Linked DNA regions of Homo sapiens: region 2 is linked to region 1. The links come from fine-mapping of genetic effects on gene expression. Tissue or cell type: whole blood. Region 1 holds a variant in brackets; the other region holds the start of a gene. All regions are shown on one strand. Distances are from middle to middle.

What was found. PIP is the estimated chance that this variant, and not a neighbour inherited with it, causes the effect.
Region 2: ZNF655 starts here. The variant in region 1 is fine-mapped to the expression of ZNF655 in whole blood (INTERVAL, PIP above 0.99). The same link has a PIP of 0.9 or more in unexposed skin.

Annotation. Positions count from the first base shown.
Region 1 is chr7:99,157,657-99,160,337 of GRCh38, forward strand. It overlaps a transcript of KPNA7 not described here. Among named protein-coding and RNA genes, the nearest start is that of SMURF1, 15 kb to the left of the region's middle. The variant T/C (reference allele first, on the strand shown) is at 1,560.
Region 2 is chr7:99,557,053-99,559,733 of GRCh38, forward strand. It overlaps ZNF655 (zinc finger protein 655), which reads left to right and starts at 1,590. Exons shown (of 3, transcript NM_138494.3): 1 at 1,590-1,735. It also overlaps a transcript of FAM200A not described here. RefSeq lists enhancers at 1,235-1,364, 1,395-1,664.

The DNA of each region.
Region 1 (2,681 bases):
CTATGAATAGATTAGCTAACTGAATGCCCTATGGATGTGATTCTAAAATTTCTTGTCAGGTAAGAACGCAAGCCATTGTGATTCTTGATCTTTCATATATGACTTCTTTTTACACTCTAGATGTAACTTTTGTTTTTTGATACAGGGTCTCACTGTCACCCAGGCTGGAGTGCAGTGGTGTGATCACAGCTCACTGCAGCCTCGACCTCCTGGACTTAAGCAATCCTCCCACCTCAGCCTCCTGAGTAGCTGAGACTACAGGCAGGTGCTACCACACCTGGCTAATTTTTTTTTGATTTTTTGTAGAGATGGGTCTCCTTATGTTGCCCACACTGGTCTTGAACTCCTGGCCTCCTGAGTAGCTGGGACTACAGGTACATGCCACCACATTTGGCTAATTTTTTACTTTTATAGAGATGAGTCTCCTTATGTTGCCCACGCTGGTCTGGTACTCCTGGCCTCAAGCGATCCTCCCACCTCAGCCTCCCAAAGTGCTGGGATTACAGGAATGAGCCACCACACCCAACTGGATCTTTTTTTTAATCAGTTTTAAATTTTCACAATGATATGCTTTGGCATAAATCAGCTTTCATCCATTTTTCTGGGCTATTCACTGGATCCTTTAAACTGGATCAGTTTTCTTCTGTTTGGGGAAATGGTATTATCTGATAATTTTCTTTCCTCTATGTTTTTTTTCTCCACTTCTAGAACTCCTCTATTCAGATTTCAGACCTCCAGTTCTGGACTTTATATAATTTGATCTTTTCTATTTTTGCAATTTTGCTCTACTTTATGGGAAATATCCTCAATTTCATCTTCCAATTCTGTTTTCATTTGTACTATCTTTTTATTATTATTATTATTTTAGATGGAGTCTCACTCTGTCGCCCAGGCTGGAGTGCAGTGGCACGATCTCGGCTCACTGTAACCTGCACCTCCTGAGTTCAAGCGATTCTCATGCCTCACCCTCCTGAGTAGCTGGGACTGTAGGTGTGCACCACCATGCCCAGCTAATTTTTGTATTTTTAGTAAAGACAGGGCTTCACCAAGTTGGCCAGGCTTGTCTCGAACTCCTGACTTCAAGTGATCCCCAACTCGGCCTCCCAAAGTGCTGGGATTACAGGTGTGAGCTACCACACTCAGCCCAGTTCTACTATCATTTCTAATTTCCAATAATCCTTTTTGTTCTTGGAATGTACATAAACAGCATCTTTTTTTTTTCTTTTGAGAGGGAGTCTAGCTCTGTCACCCAGACTGGAGTGTAGCGGTACAATCTTGGCTTACTGCAACCTCCGCCTCCTGGGTTCAAGCGATTTTCCTGTCTCAGCCTCCCGAGTAGTTGGGACTACAGGTGCACACCACGACGCCCGGCTAACTTGTGTATTTTTAGTAGAGACGGGGTTTCACCATGTTGGTCAGGCTGGTCTTGAACTCCTGACCTTAGGTGATCTGCCCGCCTCAGGCTCCCAAAGCACTGGGATTACATGCGTGAGCCACCATGCCCGACAACATCCTATGTTTTGCTTCATAAAAGCAATGTCATTAGCCAGGCATGGTAG[T/C]GCATGCCTGTAGTCCCAGCTACTTGGGAGGCTGAGGTGGAAGGATTCCTTGAGCCCCAGGAGTTCAAGGCTGTACTGAGCTATGATAGTGCTACTTCACTCCAGCCTGGGTGACACAGGGAGACACTGTCTCAAAAAAAAAAAAAAAAAAAAAAAAAGGAATAAACTTCCAGTTCGCTGCCAGGTGGGGCAGGGGGCAGTTGGTCAGCTTCATGGAATAGGGGGATGTAACAGCTTTTTGTCTTTCCAACTTTACATTATGGAGAACTTCAACCACCCACAGAAAGAATAGAACAGAACTCCCCATGGACCTATCACCAGCCCTGGTAACCATGATCACATTGCCAATTCCACCCCATGTGTGTATCTGTCACTTCCCTCTTCCCGTATTACTTTGAAACAAATTCCAAACATCACATCACTTCATCTATGATCATTCCGATTTCTCTAAAAGGACTTTATTTCTAATTAACATAGCCCCAATATGATGATTAAACCAAAACAGCCAATCATTCTTTATCATCAAACCTCCATTCAATGCTCAAGTTTCCAATTGTCTCATAAATGTCATATGTGTTTTATTTTCTCAATTGTTTGGTGGTATCAGAATACAAATGAGGCCCACTCTGGTTAGTCAATACGTCATTTAAGTCTAAATTTATAAGTTCCCCCCAAGCAATTTTTTAGTTGGAATTTATTAAGAGAAGGAAAGAAGTAGCTTGTCTGCAGGATTTCTCATGGTCTGGAGTCTGCTGCTTGCTTTTCTGAAGTGTAGCTTAGTGTTTCTCCTCTGTTGTTTTTGTTTTTTTTTTTTTTTTTTTTTTTTTGAGACAGTGTCTCGCTCTGTTGCCCAGGTTGGAGTGCAGTGGTACGATCCTGGCTCACTGCAAGCTCCGCCTCCCAGGTTCACGTCATTCTCCTGCCTCAGCCTCCTGAGTAGCTGGGACTACAGGTGCCCGCCACCATGCTAGGCTAATTTTTTTTGTATTTTTAGTAGAGACGGGGTTTCACCGTGTTAGCCAGGATGGTCTCAATCTCCTGACCTCGTGATCCGCCCGCCTCGGCCTCCCAAAGTGCTGGGATTACAGGCGTGAGCCACGCACCCGGCCTCTCCTCTGTCTT
Region 2 (2,681 bases), 400 kb after region 1:
AAAAACGAAAAAAGGTAACAATTTTTTGAGTTGTTTCCACCTCTGTCATCTGGCAAACTGTTAAAAGAAAATTTTGCTCAAAAGCAAAATAGCAGCTGCTGTTTCTTAACACTTTGTTATGTTTTGATGAGTACTGGTGGGAAGTGGCCTCTTTAAGTGGGTACCTTTTGTGGTCCTCTCACTGGAGCCAATTGCCTGAGTCAGCTAAAACTTGGACGCGATGTGCCTCACTGCCATAGCTCACTCACCTTTGCTGCTGAAATGGTTTCCCATCACATTGCTAATAGGTACAACCTGTGAAGGGTTCTAGGTGGGGAAATGGCAACTCAGGAAGAACTCCAAACCTTTAGCTCTCCTAGGATATTAAAATGGCCGTTATGAAGAGGAAGAAGTACTGTGTCATCTATTGTCCTGGGGACCTGTCAACAGGAACAATAGATAGACATCACCAGGGGTGTATTTCTGTTCAACACAAGGAAAAGTTTCTAATTGGAGCTGTCCAGCATGAAATGGACTAAGCAGTGCATTTTCTTTCTCCGATCCTGACTCCACTGTGACGGGCACTGCAGACTAGAGAGATTGTGTCCTAGTATGAATTTAGGTTGGATAAATGATACTTAGGGATAAAGAGAGGAAAGGAATATCAGAATCTCCAAGAAGCTGATACATTTTGAAAAAATATATAAAATGCCACACTTCAGGTTTTCTTGTGTTTAATTTGAAACGTCCAGTAACATTAAAGAACAGCATTTGATTTGCTTAAACAAAGTAGTAACAGCTGAAGTTCCTTCCAAATCACTTTTCTGATTCTCTAAGAGGCTTGCCTATGCCTTGCAGATCTAGCTTCACCTACAAGACATATTCTGTAAGGATCCAGGTTCAGCAAGGTGTCAGAATGTCCTAAGGGTTTCTGTCCCGGCGCTCTGCCTGTCCCGCTTGTGCACAATGCTTTTGCCTATCCCTGTTTCTGCATAGATTTTAGTCTTCCCACCAGGGACGCAACTGTCAGTTTCCTCCGTCTCTCTCGGTTCTATTCCAATCTGCTCATCTCCCCTCCCGTCCCCGCTTTCCCCAAGGACCTACTGAGATTTCGATCCCACAACTTAGTGGGTCCCATCTCACCCAGGCCCCGCAATCCTCGCCTTCTACTTGTCAGCGTTGTACTACACTCTGAGCAGGCACCCCTGTGCTACTCACGGAAGCGGGACCATTAGGTCGGCCATTCCTCCTCACCCCACGACACGCACCCACTGGGTCGGGCCGCCTCCTTGCAGGGAGTCTCAAGGATGGGCTGGCGTCAGGGAGGGGCCCAGGGGGCGCTTTCCCAACACTGGTCGCAGTCATTGTTGGTATAACGGCTAGAGACGCCCAGTGAGTTAGCATGGAGGGCAGTGGGACCGGAAAAAGACGTGGAAAAGCTGCGAAAACGAGCCTTCGAATCATGGACGCGCGGGCCCAGCTCCTCCTCCGAGTTCCTCATCCGGGGCCGTCACTCACATCCGGGGCCCTCACTCACATCCGGGACCCTCATCCGGGGCTCTCACCCACATCCGGGACCCTCATGCCTGGGCGGAGGAGGGGGGGCCCTCATTCGGGACCCTGCACTCCGTCGCCGGAAGTGCCACCGAGAAGCGCCGGCCTCGGGGCTGTCTACAGCGGCCCGGGAGAGGCTGTGGTGGCCCCGAGCGCGAGTGTGTAGGTGACAGGACAGCGGCCAGGCCCGCCCCTCCCCTCGGTGAGTACCCGGAAGCCGTTTTGGGGTCGCAGCGGGGTGGCAGCTTGTTTTGCCTTCACGGGAGTAGAAGGAGGCGGCGTCCGGCCGCGGCCGACGGTAGTTCGCTTCCCCGAGAGTGCGCGGAGGCCCGGGTGCGAGGAGGGCCTGTTTCTCTTCAGCCCTGGTTCATTCACCTCGCGGACCGAGGGCCCCGCCGTCAGGAGCCGGCGACCGTGCCCTGGTGCGAGCTGGTCTGTATGTCCTCACTGGTCCTTTTGGGACTTTGCCTTGGCCTAAAAGGGAAGTGGGAGGAGGGCAGCGCCGGGCAAGGCCTTCTGAGGACCGAGCTGGGAGCCGGGCAGGGGCCCAGGGCGAGGGTGGTGGGAGGGGGACGGCACCCTCATGCGTCCTTGGGCCTGAAGGACGCCGCTCAAACCTGTTCGAACCGCAGCTCTTACCTGCGTTGCTCTCAGGATTCCGGGAAAAGGCCGGTCTAGCTGGTCTGAGTTAGCGAAGGGCCTGACCCCAAAAGTGGAGTTTTATTCGCCAAGCCCGTGTAGTAAATCGGAGTGGGCTGACGGTGTTACCAAGACATTTCCTAGGGGGCCTGCTGTTTTATTTATTTAAATGAGTTTATTTACGTAAACGCGGGCCTGTCACGGTGGTTCACGCCGTAATCCCCGCACTTTGGGAGGCCGAAGTGGGAGGATCGCTTGAGGCCAGGCGTTCGAGTCCAGCCTGGGCAACATAGCGAGACTCCCATCTCTGCTAAAACAAAATTAAAATAAAATGAGCAATCATAACTAGCATTTTTCTCTGGGCACCAACTTGAGCCTCCAAAGACGATTGTAAATTTTAAATATTTTGTTTTGTTTATTTGAGGTGGGCTGTCACGCTGTCATACAGGCTGGAATGCAGTGGCGCAGTCATAGCTCACTGCAGCCTCTACCTCCCAAGCTCAAGCGAT